5 linked regions of the Homo sapiens genome follow. The protein of the gene in region 3 purifies or fractionates together with the protein of the main gene of each other region. This does not show direct contact. Each region holds a gene or a part of one and is shown on either strand. Other genes may lie near its edges. The genes, in order: DNAJC13, OGFOD1, TBCE, EDRF1 and FYB2.

Region 1 (4,101 bases), on a different chromosome or scaffold from region 3:
AATAATTTGTATTTCTGACAAAACAGAAGTTTATCTGTTGTTAAAAAAATTCAAATTTTCTGTGAAAGATGTATTACTATGACCCTTCCCTTTCCAAAGCTTAAAAATGCCTTAAAATACTCACCTGAAAGCTTTCTTTCCAGAAACATGTTCACTTAAGCAATGCTTTGAAATCATTGCTATTGATCATTTACATATTTTTAGTTTATACACATTATTGTAACTTTATAGACCTAATTTCTATTTCATTTTATCTTTGAAGCATAACCTGGCTTATGCAAGAACAAACTATACTATTTCTGTAAGGTCTTCAGCTTATCAACTTATTAAGCTTATCAGCTTATTAAGGCACTTAATAATCATGCTCTACTATGGTAAACAGGCCCTGAAATGGGCAAAAGAAATTTTTAGCAGCCATATTTTAACTTGTTGCTGTTTTTCCTATCATTACAGTAAATGCATAATGCGGGACTAAATTTCCTAAGCTTTTAACACATACAACTTGAAGACAGTTTTACAGAAAGCATCCTGAAAACCCAAACACTGTTCTTTTTATACTATTAAAAGACAAAAGTTTAATTTGCTACAATTTCCCCTTCACTCAATACAAAATAGCAAAAACATACATTTCTAGTTTAGTTCTGAAATATCCCTATTATTCCTACCTCTTCTGTGGCGCTTTACAGTTTATAGAACACTACCAAATTATCTTAAAAAAGCAAAGTTTCACTTTTAAAATTAAGCCCATTAGTGCTAAGATTTGGGGGGAAAATGGCTTATCTGCTCTAAGATTTGATAAACATTCAAAATACATTCTGTAGCTTGACTAGAAGTTTGAGGAGAGAAACCCCATAGCCTTAGATGACTAAGGAATACAATAAAAGTGAGAACACCATGTATAAGCGTTTAAATGTATTACAGAATACATGAAATATTAGAGAACATCTCCTCCATTCATAACCTCACCAACCCTTCCATTAAGTTGTGGCAACTAGAGCTGGCAAAAATCAAAGCGTCGAAATAATTTTTTTTAAGAGACAGGGTCTTCCTTTGTCACCCAGACTGAAACGCAGCAACACAATCATAGCTCACTGTAATCTCAGTCTCCTGGGTTCAAGCAATCCTCCTGCCTCAGCCTCCCGAGCACACGTCACCACAGCCAGCTAGTTATTTCATTTTTTGATGAGACGGGGTTGCTCAAGCTAGGTTGGAGCTCCTGGCCTCGAGTGATCCTCCCGCCTCAGCCTTCCAAGTGCTGGGATTACACGTGTGATTATTGTGCACCCAGCTAAAATAATTCTGGATTGCTTTAGGGGTTTTGTTTTCTATCTGATAATCAAAATATCAAACTCTTATTAATCCATTGCAAAGAGATATTACCACTGGGCATGTGCTAAATATGTGACTAGGCAGTGTTCTTCTAAGGGCAACTTGAGTGCTTAAACTGTAAAATTCCACTGACTTTAAAGCTCACTCTTTTTCACAAGTAGTCCATGAAAGTACAAGTAAAACTCCCATATGTCGACTATTGAATAAAGAGCATCTGAAAAGAATTACTAGCAAGCTATATGGTTTTATTGACTGAACCACACCTAAATGTACCTTTGCACAGGTAACTATCTTAAATTAGCAAAGATGATCATAACCATGTTGGTTTAAACTATTTGTTACAAAGAAATCTAACTCAGTTACTCTCAAAGGAGTTCCTATGATTAAGAATCACTCCACATAACAAGAAGTGTTATAAATTGGCATATGCTGGGTATGTGAACACTGCTGAAACAGAAAAAATATGTTGAAAACCACTGATTAAAATTTTGAACTAAAGTAATGGTTGGGCTAGGATGCCATCCCATCTGAGGCACTATGACTGGGAGCACTACTAGCATTTAGTGGATGAGACTAGATATTCAACATACATTACAGTCCCAAAGATAAGTACCATCCACACCATACGACTTTCAAGTGTCCAAGTGAGCCAGGTATGGTGGCTCACACCTGTAATCCCAGCATTCTGAGAGGCTGAGGTGGGAGGATTGCTTGAGCTCAGGAGTTTGAGACTAGCCTGGGCAACATAGTGAGACCTCGTCTCTACTAAAAATAATAATAATAAAAAAAAGTTAGCTGGGCATGGCGTGCCTATGGCTCCAGATACTAAGGAGGCTAAGGTGGGAGGATCGCTTGAGCCCAGGAGATCAGGGCTACAGTGAGCTATGATCGTGTCACTGCATTCCAGCCTGGGCAACAGAGTGAGGTCTGAAAAAAGAAAAAAAAAAAGGAAAAAGAAAAAAGTCCAGAAGTCCAAATGCTTAGTTGGTTAGTCATGTAGGCAAAAACCTATTTATAATGAATGAATCCCAGACTCTAATTGTTTTATATATAACTCACCAAGTACATTTTGCAGGGTTTAATATACAGAGATTTTTCCAGGAATGTGGCTGCAATGTAAATTAAGAGATTATACTTTATTAACCCTGTTCTTTTCTGACAATGCTAATAATCTCAATTGTGGTATTTGAGTCACCAATGTGACAAATCTGTAGACATCAACATTTCTGTCAAAAATCAAAATGGGCCAGGCATGGTGGCTCACACCTGTAATCCCAGCACTTTGGGAGGCCTGGGTGGGTGGATCACTTGAGGTCAGGAGTTCGAGACCAGCCTGGGCAACATGGTGAAACTCTGTCTCCTAAAAATACAGAAAAAAAAAAAAATCAGCCCAGCATGGTGGCAAGCGCCTGTAGTCCCAGCTACTCAGGAGGCTGAGGCAGAGGTTGCAGTGAGCCAAGATCGTGCCACTGCACTCCAGCCTGGGTGACAGAGCAAGATTGTCTCTCACACACACAAAAAAAATCTCAAAATGATTCCATGTAAAGATACAAGCCTCTGACACGTCCTTTGTGTATTTTGGTATAATCATACTTAACTATTTACATATTGAAATGCATATAGTCAATTCTGCTATAATGCTTTCTTGATCATGTGAATTTTAACAGGATTGGTGTATTACTGAACAATTTGAGCATAATGAAAATGTCACATTTGCTTATAGTGATTCTGTCCCAACACTAAGTGAACGCAGAAAATTGTACCCAACTGAGTCATGCAGGAATTCACAAAATACACACACACACTTCAGGTGGTCAATGAACCACATACATTCACATATATGTTACTAATTTTCCACTCCATCTTATAACTTTTTTTCCTTCTACTACTTCACAGTAATTCAGAAACTATAACTCCATCCAATGCTCACTGCATTGTTTGCTCAAACTTTTTCAAGGCAAAATGTCATTATTATAGTATTTAACATGTACAAAACAGTTCTTTTTAAGCTCCTATCTTTTTAAAAAATGTATAATGATGACTGCTCTTTCTCTTGGGAGTTTTTTTCATGGGCCTCATAATTTTTGGTTAAAAGCTGGACATGTTGTGTAGGAGTAGAGATTGAGGTAATTTTTATGACTGGAAATGAGCACGCCTGTTCTTTGTGAGGCCTTTGGTGAAGGGTTTGTGTTAATCTGGTTAGGAGTTGGACTTAGTTTATGATTTGTTTTTGCCATAGTTATCCTCAGTGTATTACAGCCTTCATGAATCTGCAGAACAGTTTGTCTCTCTGGTGGGCGATGGTTTACTAGAGCAATGCCTGTTTGATTCTTTGTGTTGTGCCTCTTTGCATAATCTTGTTCCTTTCCTAGTAGTATTTTGTGGGTTACTTGTTACTGAAAGCTTCTTAGCTTGGTGGCAGGGGGTTGGGGGTGGGGGATACAGTCTGATGTTCTGATTAAGTCTAAGTCAAACACTGTGTTCCTGAATCTCAGGAGGGCAGCACTCTCGGTTCTGTTGACCACTCCCGACTGCAGTTTTGGGCTCAGGGCCCCTCCTCCAGGCATAAGATTCTCTCCCACTTCTCATCTACCCCCTGAATGTTCACCAATGGGGCCAACAGAGATACCCTTCTCCCCAGAGATTAAAGCTTTTTTCCATAGAAGAGGCAGAGGGGAAGAATCACAGCAGTTTCTTGACCCTCTTAAAAGTTCTGTTGCTGTTCCTCTCCCTCTCAATCTGCACAGCAGACTCACCCAGGGTTCTTTCCAG
Region 2 (3,500 bases), on a different chromosome or scaffold from region 3:
TATAACTGTTTGGTTAGAAGCATATGGGTCACAACTTGAACTTGTAATCAGTATCTGAAGTGGGGTTGGGGGAGAGGGCACACTGGGGGCAGTCTCATGGGACTAAGCCCTTAACCTTTATTAATGCCTGGTAGATAGTGTCAGAATTGAATTGAATTTTAAGACACTCAGCTGGTGTCAGAGAATTGGTCAGTGTGGGGGGATAAGCCCACACATTTGGCATTGGAAGTGAAGTAAAGTGTGTAAAGAAAAACAGTTGAGGCCAGGTGCTGTGGCTCATGCCTATAATCCCAGCACTGGAGGCCGAGGCAGGCGGATCACTTGAGGTCAGGAGTTGGAGACCAGCCTGGCCAACATGACAAAACCCCATCTCTACTAAAAATATAAAAATTAGCCGGGCGTGCTGGTGCATCCCTGTAGTCCCAGCTACTCGGGAGACTGAGGCAGGAGAATCACTTGAACCCAGGAGGCAGAGGTTGCAATGAGCCAAGATCACACTGCTGTACCCCAACCTGGGCAACAGAGCAAGACTCTATCTCAAAAAAAAAAAAAGAAAGAAAAGAAAAGAAAAACAGTTGAGCTTTCCATTTTAGTGCTGAAAAACTTGTCTGAAAATCAGTAACTTGGACTAGACCACTGGTGTGATGAGTTGTTATGACAAAGGCCAAACTGCTGCCATGACAGGGCATACTTTAAATTTAGGAGAAAGAAAATACTGAGAAAACATGAACCATTAGAACAAAAAATAACAAATATAATGTAGGTAGAGACTTACATTTATTTTTCTGGGAACATTAGACTTAAACTATGCAAATTTGAACTGAGAAACATTTCTCAGAATGTCTCAAATGAGATCGGAGAATGGATCTCTTGAATACAATGTGATCTCCAGGAAAGAAAAGTTGTGGCCTAGATCCAAACAGTTGTGACCTAGATCCCACACTGTGGCATAACAAGTTATCTTTTGTTTACATTTCTAGGAAAATTCTGTTTGAAGATTTCCGGTCCTGGCTTTCTGATATTTCTAAAATTGACCTGGAATCAACCATTGACATGTCCTGTGCTAAATATGAATTCACTGGTAAGGAAGATAAAGGCCTGGTGTCTGTAAGATATAAAGGCTTTAACTCAGCATTAATGGAGAGATGGTATCTGTGTACCAAAACACTCAACTGAATGTCCCTGCAAAGCATCCGGATCTTCCTGATAAAGACCCAGTTCATAGACAGAAATACCCACCTTATTGGAAGGCATAAGCAGTGGTTGTCTTTCAGAATATGATGAAAGCTACTGACCATATTTTCAGCAAAATCCCCATAACATACATACACACCAACTGTACATACAATATCAAGAAATTCAGAGTGATATATAAACTCTATTCTTAGACTTCCTAAGGAACAACCATCTCCTTCAATGCCATTCTCCCTTCTCTTTTTTATTTTGAAGGCAATAAGTGAATGCATTCTTAAAGGAAAAAAAATCAAACAATATTGCAGGTATATGGTGTAAACCATGATAGCCTTCTTCACCTTCTCCCTGCTCCCTCTTCTCTTCAGAGGTACCTATTGTCACCAGTTTGGGGTGCATCCTTCCATTTCTCTTTCTGAGCATATAAATGGTTTTTTTGGATACAAGCTTGGTTTTTCACCCAGAAGGAAAAGGTTTTTTCTTTTTTAAATTTTACTAAATAAAATAATTCTTTGAGTGTACTCTCATACACTGTCCTGGAAGTATAGATGGCTCACAACTTTTAGAGGATGACTTGGTGATACATAGGAAAAGCCATATCATGTATCTTCATTTACTGCCATGTCATTTCTTTTTTGGGTTTTTTTTTTTTTTTTTTTTTTTTTTTTTTGGTTTGTTGGTTCGTTGGTTCGTTTTGAGACGGAGTCTCCCTCTGTTGTCCAGGCTGGAATGCAGTGGCGTGATCTCGGCCCACTGCATCCTCCACCTCCCGGGTTCAAGTGATTCTCCTGCCTCAGCCTCCTGAGTATCTGGGATTACAGGCATATGCCACAATGCCTGGCTAATTTTTGTATTTTTAGTAGAGATGGAGTTTCACCAGTTGGCTAGGCTGGTCTCAAACTCCTGACCTCAAGTGATCCGCCTGCCTTTGCCTCCCAAAATAGTGGGATTACAGGTGTGAGCTACCATGCCAGTATTTTTTTTTTTTTTTTACTTTGAAGTAATTTCAAACTTGCAGAAAAGTGGCAAGCATAGTACAAATAATTTATTTTTTCCTATTTTACTTGAGAGTAAGTTGTTGGCATGATGTTCTATGACCCCTGAATACTTCAGTAATTTCTACAAGGACATTCTCCTACATGATAATCATAAACCATCAGAATCAGGAAATTTACGTTGATGCCTTATTCCACATCAATGGATTATCTAATCCTCAGGCTCCATTCAGGTTTCATTATTTGGTCCTTTATAGCAAAAGGACCCAGTCCAGGATTGCATGTTGCATTTAGTTATAATATTGTCTCTTCAGCCTCCCTCAATCTAGAACAGCCCCTCCATCTTTCCTGGACTTTCATGATCTTTATGCTTTTGAAGATGTACAGATGAGTTATTTTGGAAAACTTGCTTCAGTTTGGGATTGTCTGATGTTTTCTCATGATTAGATTCAGGCCATATATTTTTGGCAGGATTACAGAAATTAATCCTGTATTCTTTTCACTGTATCAGGTGGTGCATGGTTTCAGTGTGTCACATTATTAGTGATATGAACTTGGATCACTTGATTAATGTGGTGGCTGACATCAGGTTTTTCCACTGTTCTTTTTCCCTATCAGTATATATTTTGTGGGGAGATACTTTAAGATTATGTAAATATCCCATTTCTCATCAAAGTTCGATTTGCTTATTTTAGCATTCTCTGATGTTTCTTGCTAAATTATTACCATGAAGGTTGCCAGATGGTGATTTTATAACACAATCATTTCTCTACATTTATTGTCATTCCACTCTAGAGAAGACCTTTCTCCTGATTTATTTATTCATTCGTTTATATTGGTATGGATTTATGGATTGCTGGTTGTGTAATGAGCTGTTACCAGTTACTATCATTATATTGATGCTCATACTGTCCCTGATTTATCAAGGAGAACCCCGTCAAACTGACTTCTGCGTTCTTTTGCTATGTCCCCATCATTCTTTTTTTTTTCCTACTTTCTGCAAAACAAGATTTTCCAAGCTTATCTTTGTATTTTCCATGCCAACGTCCTAGAATGACCTGGAGTTGGCCATTCTTCCAAAGAATCCTGGTTCCTTTTAGTGAAGAAAGATACTTAACAATCAAGATCTGGACTCTTAAGTGTCTTTGCTATTAGGGTGTCACTGCTCCCAGACCCCTTCAGTTTGAAGAGGTGGTGAATATCTGTATACATGTATATACACATGTGGATGCACACACATACATTTACATTTGGAATGTATTTCTTTTTTTTTTTTTTTAGACTGTCTCTCACTCTGTTGCCCAGGCTGGAATA
Region 3 (4,101 bases):
TGTTTTGATAAGGATTTTTCATTAATCTACCTATTTTACTAATGTCACACTTTTCTAGGCCTTCCTGAATATTTAATTTGTTTTAATCTCAGAACCTAACTTTCCAAGGGCTTAGCCAGGCTTCCTCCATTTTTTTTTTTTTGAGGCAGAGTCTCACTCTGTTGCCCAGGCTGGAGTACAGTGGTATGATCTTGGCTCACTGCAACCTTCGCCTCCCAGATTCAAGTGATTCTCCTGCCTCAGCCTCCCAAGTAGCTGGGACTAGAGGTGCCTACCACCACACCCGGCTAATTTTTATATTTTTAGTAGAGACGGGGTTTCATCATGTTGGCCAGGCTAGTCTTGAACTCCTGACCTCAGGTGATCCATCTGCCTTGGCCTCCCAAAGTGCTGGGATTACAGGCGTGAGCTACCGTGCCCAGCACAGGTTTCCCCTTTCATTCTTGAACCATTTTTGCATAGACATGTGAGTGTACAGTAAAGCCGGTAGACAGGCCTGAATGAGTTGTGCTCCCAAATAGAGCAAACGGGGGCAATTCAACCCATGGTGTCTCATCTTCTGGAAATACGGGCTTGTGTTTTTTAATAGTATCGTCTTTCAAAGTGACTGTCAGGATTGAATACTTTCTGAGATTAGGGTTTTGAGAAATAATTTAAGGGGCAATAATTTCATCCATCCTCATAGCCAAAGGGCAGACTCTATGTTTAGAGAAGCAAAATTCTAGCCCATGATTCAGTGTATCAGTAAGACTCTGGAGAACGGGACTTTGTTTTGCAGTATCCAGAGCCATATCTTGTGAAGCTGGAAGCTCACCTTGCAAATGCCTGAGTTTTGGGTTTAGGAAGCCTACAGCCGCATACAGGTGCCCTAATCCTGTGAAAGCATCTTTACACAGCTGATACCAAAAAGTTGTATGTTGTAAATGTTAAAAATTAGGTAGTCTTGATTCACTTGAATCATTAAAAAAGTGATTTTTAAAATATAATTCCATTTTAAGATTGAAACAAATCAAACCCCTTAGATTAAAACCCAGATTGTTGCTTTCAACAACTATTTCAGTTGGGTTTACTGTATAGAAATAAGTACATTGTATCTTTTTTTTCTACACAGTGAAAATAAACTAAAATTTCCCTCCGGTTCAGTATTAACTGGAACGCTTTCTGTACTGAAGGTTTTAGTCCTCAATCAAACAGGAATAACGTGGGCTGAGGTAATCATATTTCTTTGTTTTATTACACATTAATAAGCAATTAAAAATGTTTGGTTTAATAGAGAATTGTTAGTACAGTTTAATAGTACAACTGTGGCTTCATTTAAATCATCCCAGTATCTATTAATAGATAACAAGATTCATTAAAGTGCCTTATAAAAACGAGTTAAAAGAGCATCATAGTTGAGTTTTGCATCTGGAAATCCATGTCCTATCTCAGCTCATTTTGACTTGTTCTGGTGCCTTTATAAACAGTGGCGCTCCGTTATGGTATGAACCAGTATGTGCTGAGCTTCAAAAAGCCGTAGTGTTGGCTATTGACTAGCTTCCTGAGTTTTCCTGTTAGTTTTTTTTAGAACAGAAGCCAAGCAGCAGAAAGGTTCTCACATACTTTTCTTGTTAGAAGTTCGGCTCTTGGAATCCACTGTTCATTTTATACAGCCGGGCTCAAAAGTAGACTTGTGGGTCCTTGGCACAGCAGCATTTGGGACTTATATCTGGCAGTACTATTTCCTGTCTGAGGTGTACTGACTTCACACACCCAGAGCATTCCACTTTCTTTTTTTTTTTTTTTGAGACGGAGTTTTACTCTTGTTGCCCAGGCTAGAGTGCAATGGTGCAACCTTGGCTCACTGCAACCTTTGCCTCCCAGGTTCAAGCGATTCTCCCACCTCAGCCTCCCAAGTAGCTGGGATTACAGGCATGTGCCATCACACCCAGCTAATTTTGCATTTTTAGTAGAGACATGGTTTCTCCATGTTGGTCAGGCTGGTCTCGAACTCCTGACCTCAAGTGATTTGCCCGCCTCGGCCTCCCAAAGTGCTGGGATTAGAGGTGTAAGCCACCGTGCCCAGCCCACTTTCATTTTTATTTATTTATTTTTCTTGAGACAGAGTCTCACTCTGTTGCCCAAGGTGGAGTGCAGTGGCGCAATCTCGGCTCACTGCAACCTCCGCCTCCCAGGTTCAAGTGATTCTTCCGCGTCAGCCTCTCAGGTAGCTGGGATTACAGGCATGTACCACCATGCCCAGCTAATTTTGTATCTTTAGTAGAGACAGAGTTTCTCCATGTTGGTCAGGCTGGTCTCGAACTCCTGACTTCAGGTGATCCACCCACCTCGGCCTGCTAAAGTCCTGGGATTACAGGCGTGAGCCACCGTGCCCAGCCCACTTTCATTTTTATTTATTTATTTTTCTTGAGACAGAGTCTCGCTCTGTTGCCCAAGTTGGAGTGCAGTGGCATGATCTCGGCTCACTGCAACCTCCGTCTCCTGGGTTCAAGCAATTCTCCAGCCTCAGCCTCCAAAGTAGCTGGGATTACAGGCGCTTGCCACCATGCCCAGCTTATTTTTGTATTTTTAGTAGGGACAGGGTTTCACCATGTTGGCCAGGATGGTCTTGAACTCCTGACCTCAAATGATCTGCCTGTCTCAGCCTCCCAAAATGCTGGGATTACAGGCGTGAGCCACTGTGCCCAGCTTGGGCATTCCACTTTCAAACCAAGGGTGTAGAAATACATTCCCAGCCATGTTCACCCAGGAAGTGCCACAGAGGCCACTCAGTGAGAGACAGGTGGGCCCCTTGTGCCCTTAATATGCCCGTGGCCATGGAGCCTCTTTCCTAGGGCCCCTCCTCTGTGAGGCGCTTACTCCCTCTCAAGGTGTAGATGTAGCTGGAAGACAAGAAGGGGCCAGACACTGGCACTGGGGCTCACACCTGCAATCCCAGCGCTTTGGGAGGCTGAGGTGGGAGGATCACTTGAGCCCAGGAGTTTGAGGCTGCAGTGAGCTAGGATTGCACCTTTGCACTCCAGCCTGGGTGACAGAGCAAGACGCATCTCACCCTCCAAATAAACTAGGAAGGGCACACAGAAATTGAAGTGGTGGAGATGGCAGTAAAGTTCCAGTGAGAAAATTTAGAAATAGTTGGTGAGGCTGGTCATGGTGGCTCTCGCCTATAATTCCAGCCAGCACTTTGAGAGGCCCAGGCAGGAGAATCACTTGAGGCCAGGAGTTCAAGACCCACCTAGGCAACATAGAGAGATCCTGTAGATGCTATATATATATTATATATTATTATACATAATTATATAATATATAATAATTTTTTGTAATTTTTTTTTTTGTAAAAAAAAAAAATTAGGCTCATGCGCAGTGTGGTGGCAGCAGGCACGGTCTCGACATGCAGAAAGACGCCAGCAAGTTCGTGGATCTGTGCGTGCTGCAGAAATGCTCCACCAGCAACTGCATCATCAGTGCCAAGGACCACACATCCATGCGGATGAACGTGGCCAAGGCCAGTGAGGTCACGGGCAGGTTTAACAGCCAGTTTAAAACCTGTGCTATCTGCAGGACTGTTTGCAGGATGGGTGAGTCAGATGATTCCATTCTCTAATTGGCCATGGCCAAGGGCGTCATCTCAACTATTTGGTTTTTGAGATGGAGTCTTGCTCTGTTGCCTAGGCTGGAGTGCAGTGGTGTGATATTGGCTCACTGCAACCTCTGCCTCCTGGGCCAAAATGATTCTCCTGCGTCAGCCTCCCAAGTAGCTGGGATTACAGACGTGCACTACCACGCCTGGCTAATTTTTTGTATTTTTAGTAGAGATGGGTTTTCACCACGTTGGCCAGGCTGTTCTCAAACTCCCGACCTCAAGCATTCTGTCTGCCTCAGCCTCCCAAAGTGCTGGGATTACAGGCGTGTGCAACCATACCCGGCCATTTTTGTATTTTTAGTGGTAATGGGTTTCATCATGTTGGCCAGGCTGGTCTCCAACTCCTGACCTCAAGTGATCCACCTGCCTTGGCCTCCCAAAGTGCTGGGATTACAGGCATGAACTCACTGTGCCCGATCTCAAAGAACTTTTGATTGGAGAGAATCATGGATGTAGAA
Region 4 (4,101 bases), on a different chromosome or scaffold from region 3:
CAACATGGGCCCAAATGGTTTACCATCTCACATCTTACTTACACCATCCCACATCTTACTACGCCATCCCACATCTTACTTACCCACTATCCCACATCTTCCTCACACAGGCCTCTTGCTCCCTCTAAACGTACACTTGCACCCTTTGAGATCCCTGGCTTCTTCCTCACACCGCCTCCTTGGTCTGGAGTGCCCTCCTTTCCTCACATTTGCCGGCTGATGCTCTACACATCCTGCATCACCCTGCTCAACAACACTTTCCCAAAAGCCTTCTAACTTATAACCTCCATAAATGTCTTATTTCCCCAGTCTCCCATTATACTTCGTCGGTACTCATCCACAGCATTTTGAGGCTTTGTGTTCCTATCTAGCTTCCCAACATGAAGAGAGAACCATATTTTAGCCAGTTACATATCCAACATAGAGCCTGGCACATGGCTGGATGTCCCATTTGCTTCTGAATTGATCAGATGGAGTGAGTACAAAAGTAAGAATGAAGAACATTGAAATAATTCATTCCAAGGGAAAATCATGTGTTCCTAATTCTATTTCTTAAGAATAATAAGAGGTTCTCTAATAGAGCACCTCTTTATGATATAAAATCAAGTGCCACAGTTCTTTGCTTGACTCATACAAAATTAGCATAATTTTCTGAGAGAACAAGCAATAGAGAGGAATCTAAAGAGATACTCACCTAGTCTCTCACTCTGTAATGCAGCAGCCTGATTCATGTAAAACACACCAATTTCATTTCTAATGTTACCCATTCTCTTTAATACTTGTACATAGTGTTCTGGATTTTGGCTTTTCAAGTCACTAAACTGCAAGATTTCATTAGCAGCCTCATAACATTTACAACTAACAGAGAGTTGACTTTCTAAGTCTGTAGACAAATCAGTTGCCCATGCAAATCCTGAAAAGAAAAAAGGGATACATCAATGCGAATCATGTGATTCCTTCTTCCTCAGTATCCAAATGAACCTGAGATTCTAAATTCTAAGTAATAAAAAATGCAATATAGTGTAAGTATACCAAGATTCAATCAATACAACAATATTTAAGTTTCATAATAAAGATCTATTTATTTATAAAATTATATTTCTTGGGATATTAATGTTGGATAAAAATATTTTCCTGCCTATGAATATCAAACAATTTCTGTGACCCAGGTTTTCCCAGGTACACTTGTTTATTAGAATGGACCTAAAGTTGTCCACTAATACAAAGTAAAGTTGCTATTTTTAACTAATGGAAATAGTTCTTGAAATAATGTCCCAATATTAACTTTAAGTCACTGAAGAGGCTGCTACAGAAGCCCTCGAAGATTAAAAATGCCATCTAGTGGGGACTAGAGTAAAAAGAATATTTAACTGAAATTGCTATGATGGGAGTAGTAAAAATACACCAAGGACTTTCCTACTACATTAAAACATGATTATTTGAGAAAGACGGAGAGAGGGGAAGAAAGGGCAAAACTATTACAAAATAACACATTTTTCCCTCTCCCCCAGTATACTCCTCTAGCTATGAATTGTCTAAAACTCTGGGAGGCAAACATCAAGTAATATTCAGTATAACAATTTAAGAGCATAATAAAACAACCCCATGAGACATTACAGAAGCACCTTCAGAAGACTCATCTTTTACTTCATTCACTGTGTTAATGGCAGCGTGGTTACACACTGTGCTGAGGTAAGAGGGAGGGATATCGCTGCTGCGGATCAGATTATTCTACTTCCCAGTTTTAAAGCCTGACAATTCCAAACAGAGTGACATATTAAGCAAGACAGGTGGCTATGAACTAACTTTAAAAACAATGATCACTTTATTTCAGCCCCAAGGAATCATTCAGAAGGTTAATTAACCTCCTTCACCAACTGTTATACCTTTCAAAAGGAAACCTATGGCTTTGTTAGCTGACTACAAGTGTTACCTAGAAGAACCTCATGAAAAGAAGAGTGTAAAAAGCTGACACAAGGCTGGGTGCAGTGGCTCGTGCCTGTAATCCCAGCACTTTGGGAGGCCAAGGTGGGAGGATCGCTTGAGTTGAGGAGTTTGAGACCAGTCTGGGGCAACGTGGTGAAACCCTGTCTCTAACAAAAATACAAAAATTAGCTAGGTGTGGTGGCGCATGTACTAGTCCCAGCTACTTGGGAGACTGAGATGGGAGGATCACTTGAACCCAGGAGGTGGAGGTTGCAGTGAGCCAAGACTGCCCCACTGCACTCCAGCCTGTGTGGCAGAGCGAGACTGTGTCTCAAAAAAATAAATAAATAAAATAAAATAAAAAGTTGACACAACTGTCTTCATATCTTACTTTATATTTAGTTCTAGTTATATAAACAGTAATTATAAAATACTTAAAAACCATTTTATACAAATACACAAGATCATGCTTAATCTTAAAATTAGGAAATGAATAAAACAGCAGGCCAGGCGTGGTGGCTCACACCTGTAATCCCAGCACCTTGGGAGGCCAAGGTGGGCTAGCCGGGCATGGTGGCGCATGCCTGTAATTCCAGCTACTTGGGAGGCTGAGGCAGGAGAATTGCTTGAACCCGGGAGGCGGAGGTTTCAGTGAGCCAAGATTGCACCATTGCACTCCAGCTTGGGCAACAAGAGCGAAACTCCGTCTCAAAAAATAAATAAATAAATACAGAGCAAATATCAAAACTCTAATATTTCTACCCCTTTTCTGAATACTCAAATAAGCATGAGCTAGACTGCACAGTCCCACTGTGAACCACGTGGTCCAAGCCTGTGGCACACCTTGGCAACTGGACTCTCTGTGAAGGCTATGCAGGATCTCCTGGTCTTCTTTTGTTTGGTAATGAAACTCTTCAAGGTGTGCTGCTCTATTATTTGCATTCTGGGCCAGCATTAGTTGGATATCACCACAAAGTGTCAAATATTGAGAGAGAAACAACAGCACTTCGGAAAGCATATTGGTGCAGAGGCAGCAATAAGTATCTGTTTAGAAAGGGAGGGAAGAAGAAAAAACACAAATGCAGAAAAAAATTAATGATCATAGGAAATATGAAGAAACTGTGTTACCAGCTGAACGCTTTGTAGCACTGTATCTATTCTGTTTATTTTAGGTCCAACAATACATATTACGGCTTCATGTAGTTCAAAGCAAAGAGATGTTAAACCACTGAGCAGAAACTAAAATAGAAGGTAACACACACAGGATTGGAAACAGTCATTTTAAAATAAAGATTTACTAGAAAAATAGGAGTAAACTTCCACTGTGATTCAGATGCCTTCTCTGTTCTCTCTTCCCAGTGCCTATTAAACATATTCATTTATAGTGGCTTACCATGGCTTTGCAAAGCTAATTTAATGTATCGTAATGCTCTTCCGTATTTCTGAAGACTCATGGCAGCATCGGACAAAACATAATAGGCCTTTGATGACTTGAGAATCAGCTGAAGTTTCATTTTATGTTGCCAAGAGCCAGGGATCATTCCAGATTGACTGGAATAATTGCCCTTCTGAAGGGAGCCCACTGTGACATGGAGAGAAAAAAAAAGACAGCACATTTCATTTGACTGTAAGTCTCATGCACAAAAAATATTTTCTGTTTCTTGATGGAAACACTCTAGACTTAGGTGACAAGACTGGTAAATACTATGCTTTACTGCTTAAATACACTGGAGTGAAATGGCCGTGTTAAAAGACTCTCACTTGGGAGTTCTAAGGCCTTCTGCTTCCCTGACATCGGCAACTCTGTCATTCTCTTCCAGTGTCACTGACATAGCTAACCTCATGAGTGACACCTGTCTCCTTTTTCCAGTCTATGTGTCAACCTGTCAAAGTTTACCTTCCTAAAGCACAGCTTAGATCAGCGTGAAAGCCTGTCCTCAAACATGAAAACGGCTTCTCCCCACTTAGCTAGTTGCATGTTTCTCAGTCTCACTTCCTACTTGTCCATCCTACTACCCATCAGCCAATGTTAAGTTACTGCTTGTCACCTATAAACATGCCTGTTTTTCCTATCTCCCATCTTAGTTTACTGTTTCCTCTACAAGGAATACTCTTTATTTAAAGTCCAGCCCATCGCTACCTTCTTTACTCAACAAATGATCATTTTTCTGCCAA
Region 5 (3,500 bases), about 180 Mb from region 3:
CCCCAGTGCCTGGCACAAGTGAGCTATACAACGTTTTATGATTTGAGCTGGACAAAAATTATTGAAATGGCCTATCAAGGAAACCCACTACAGGTAATAAGAATGGAATTATACACATATACAGGAAATGGAATATCTTTCACACATGAAACAATAAAAAACACACAGAGGTGGAAAAAAGGATTGGATGGAATATAAGGGTCTTTTCAACAAGTAATTGCCTCACTGTTGTTTTTCAATTAATCAAGTAACATCAGGGTTGCAGTAGATAATAACATATCACAATTTCTAGATATAGTAACCCCAATCAGCTTTGGTTCAAACAGGAATTATCAGTGATGATGAGAGATTTGTGTACATTCCTATTTTAGTTCATCTCAAAAAATATTTTATGCATGTTTACAAAATGCTAAGCAGCCTTATTATGCTCTGCACATGGATATAAACATAAATAAAATAACCATTGTCCTCTAGGAGCTCATAGTGTAATATGATGAACATGTAATTCCAATTACTTTAATGTGTGATAAGCTAGAGATTGCTCAAGTATATAGGTAAACAGAAGAAGAGTAATTTATTTAATTAGAAGATTTGGGCAAGTCTTCCTGGAGAAGAGGAGATGCCTCGACTGGGTCTTGATAAATGAACGAGCTAGTCAGATACAGAAAAGTGCAAAGGTGTACCAGAGAGTTGGAATAGACCAAGGAAGCACTTAGAGGGATGAAATAGCAAGACAAAGATAGAGGTGGAGGTTCATTCGAGGGACAGAACTATGAGCAGTTTGTTGCCAAAGCAGAAAGTGCAAGGCAAAGAGTGGCAAGAGATAAAGCCAGGAAGATATGCAAAGATCAGGACATAAAGAGCTTTCTATGCCATGTTAAGAAGCCTAAACTTTAACCATTTTGCAAGGGGGAATTTTTGAAAAATTTTAGGCAGCATAGTGACTATGAGGAGGATGCACACTTTGTCTCTCTCAGTCCAGTGTCTAGCACATGGAAGGTGCTCAGTATGTTTCATAGTTAATAATCCTCACTTTGACAATATATGAAATCAGGGAAGTTTGAGCTTTAGAATAATGAAAAAATGTCCCATGGACTCTTAATAACAGAATAAGAAGGCAGAGAGCTTCGGATGCTGCATCATTCATTTGTTCATTTTGTCATTCATTTGCTTGTTTATTTAGGCATTCATTTACCAAACACTGTGCTTACAGTTTTATGTCAGGCCCTGGGGAACAAACTTGAATGAGACAGGGTTTCTTTCTCAAAAAGGACTCAAGAGATTAATTAAAGATTCACAGACACACACACACACACACACGCACACACACACACAAATGCTTTAATACAACTAATCAGTGTTACAAAAGACGTGTAAAATAGACATATAAAATGTGCTGAAGGAGTAACTTAACCTGGACGAGTTAGGGAGGAGTGGGTGACATTTGAACAGAGCCTTCAAGAACAACTTAGGAGTTTTTCCAGGAAGAAGGAATAGCATGGACAGACATAACAATATAGAAATGTACCAGGAAAAAATAGGAATGAAATGCTGGCTTTTTGTGTCAAAGATCATGTCTGTATCTCAGAGAGGCAGAGGCACAGCATACTTACAGATTTTTTTTTTAAATGAAAGCTCCTAGCTGTTAATATTGCTAATTTTTACCTTCAGAAGAGAACGTACCTTAAACCTTTCTCTAAATAGTTTTTCTTCTCTTTTCATTCTGTTCTTTTCTAAGTTTTGCTTCTTGGTTTTGAAGAAATTTCTAGGAGAGAAACTAGCAAGAAATGTGCAGGTAGGGTAAAACGTACTATAATAAAACTTTTTAAGTTTCTGAGCCTACGAAGTCACTTCATTTCAGGATAAATTCAGGTATAATTTTTTGTGATCATAATTTTATATAAAATAATACACAAAGTCACGCATCTGTATTTGTGTATATGTACACACACGTATGTAGGTTCATAATACAAATACACACATATATTTCCATTAGAGCAAATTGTCAAACAACTGATCAGGGTAATGTCAATTGCTTTTCGCTACAATTAAAAAAATATTTTTGATGGCAAGATAATAACGGGATAAAATCACATTGGTTAAACAAATGAAGGTAAACAAGAAACTTGTCTGAATGAGACTTAGAGATATAACTTTTTCTTTTTTTTAGGTTTAGGAAATTTATAAATGTTCCCATTCACCTTCAGACTATTTAATGGAAACCAGTAAGAATAAGTAAGCAGCTTACTTTGTGTGGTTTTCTAAGTTGTTAAACCTAATTGGGGATCACAAGTCTACATGGTTCAATCGAAGAGCTCTCCAGTTTGCTGAATGTTTTGGAGGATGAATACCATTAAGAAAATAAAGAAAGATGCCACAAAACGTGTGAGAATTTCAGCACTTAAAAATAAATAACCCTACAGAAGAAGCTGATTATACTCTTAGTCCTCCCTCTTGCTCTTCACATGAGATTTGGTTCTTCTTTTTAGCAGTTCAATGTATTGACAGAAGTAAAAAAGTCAACCAAGTCCTGTTAGTCTTATTCCTAAGTGTCCCCTACATTTGTTTATTTCCAAGATTACAGCCACTGCCATATTTCAGATTATCACTACTTATTGCCTGAGATGCCATCTTCGTCTTACCTCACCTTCCTCAAATTCATTGGTGTATCTGCCTGCAGAGTCATTTTTCTAAAATTTAGTTATGTCACTCTCTTGCTTAAAACCTTTCAATTTCTCTCTATTGCCAATAGGATAAAGTCTAAATTCATTAGCATTTTATAATCTGGCCTGATCATCTTTCCAGCTTCATCAGCTGCCCATTTCCCTACACATTACAATGTCTACTTGGGTCATCTTAGAAAGTGGGTTATCCTTTTCATGCTGTTATACATGGGATACTGCTATGGTTTGGATATTTGATTCCTCCAAACCTCATGTTGACATTTGGTCCCTAATGTTGGAGGTGGGGCCTAATGGGAGATGTTTGGGTCATGGGGTTGTCTCCCTCATGAATGGCTTGCTACTGTCCTCTTGGTAATGAGTGAGTTACCACTCTCACAGTTTCCTAGAGCCTGGCATCTCATTTGTTAAAATGAGCCTGGCACCTCACTTGTCTGTCTCTCTTCCTTTATAGCCATGTGATGTCTGCACATTCTCCTTCACCTTCTGCCATGAGTAGAAGCAGCCTGAGGCCTTCACCGAAGCAGATGCCAATGTCATGCTTCTTGTACAGTCTACAGAACCATGAACTAAATAAACCTCTTTTCTTTATAAATTACCCAGCCTCAGGTGTTCCTTTATAGCAACACAAACAGACTAAGACAGATAACCTTAGCCAACTTTTCTTTAAACTTGCCATCATCTTTGATTGATAAAAGAATAATAAAAGGGTTGAACTAATACTTCTTACTTACTGTTAGAATACATTATGGTAGAAATCATTTTAAAAATGATACAGAAATTGATACAGAAATAACTAGCCTTACAGTAATGTTTTCT

What was found.
Region 1: the proteins of TBCE (region 3) and DNAJC13 purify together in Homo sapiens (affinity purification with mass spectrometry, with the first as the bait; one large-scale study listed by BioGRID). This does not show direct contact.
Region 2: the proteins of TBCE (region 3) and OGFOD1 fractionate together in Homo sapiens (co-fractionation; one large-scale study listed by BioGRID). This does not show direct contact.
Region 4: the proteins of TBCE (region 3) and EDRF1 purify together in Homo sapiens (affinity purification with mass spectrometry, with the first as the bait; one large-scale study listed by BioGRID). This does not show direct contact.
Region 5: the proteins of TBCE (region 3) and FYB2 purify together in Homo sapiens (affinity purification with mass spectrometry, with the first as the bait; one large-scale study listed by BioGRID). This does not show direct contact.

The regions. Positions count from the first base shown.
Region 1 is NC_000003.12:132,420,212-132,424,312, reverse strand, and holds part of DNAJC13 (dnaJ homolog subfamily C member 13), read right to left. Parts: exon of another isoform or gene 2,596-4,101; intron 1-2,595.
Region 2 is NC_000016.10:56,461,554-56,465,053, forward strand, and holds part of OGFOD1 (prolyl 3-hydroxylase OGFOD1), read left to right. Parts: intron 1-980; coding exon 981-1,081; intron 1,082-3,500.
Region 3 is NC_000001.11:235,429,594-235,433,694, forward strand, and holds part of TBCE (tubulin-specific chaperone E), read left to right. Parts: intron 1-1,111; coding exon 1,112-1,211; intron 1,212-3,352; coding exon of another isoform or gene 3,353-3,505; exon of another isoform or gene 3,506-3,639; intron 3,640-4,101. UniProt on the Homo sapiens protein: Tubulin-folding protein; involved in the second step of the tubulin folding pathway and in the regulation of tubulin heterodimer dissociation.
Region 4 is NC_000010.11:125,739,870-125,743,970, reverse strand, and holds part of EDRF1 (erythroid differentiation-related factor 1), read right to left. Parts: intron 3,509-4,101; coding exon 3,320-3,508; intron 2,971-3,319; coding exon 2,770-2,970; intron 1,752-2,769; coding exon of another isoform or gene 1,732-1,751; exon of another isoform or gene 1,057-1,731; intron 914-1,056; coding exon 695-913; intron 1-694. UniProt on the Homo sapiens protein: Transcription factor involved in erythroid differentiation. Involved in transcriptional activation of the globin gene.
Region 5 is NC_000001.11:56,721,905-56,725,404, forward strand, and holds part of FYB2 (FYN-binding protein 2), read right to left. Parts: intron 1,778-3,500; coding exon 1,684-1,777; intron 1-1,683. UniProt on the Homo sapiens protein: Adapter protein that plays a role in T-cell receptor (TCR)-mediated activation of signaling pathways. Required for T-cell activation and integrin-mediated T-cell adhesion in response to TCR stimulation.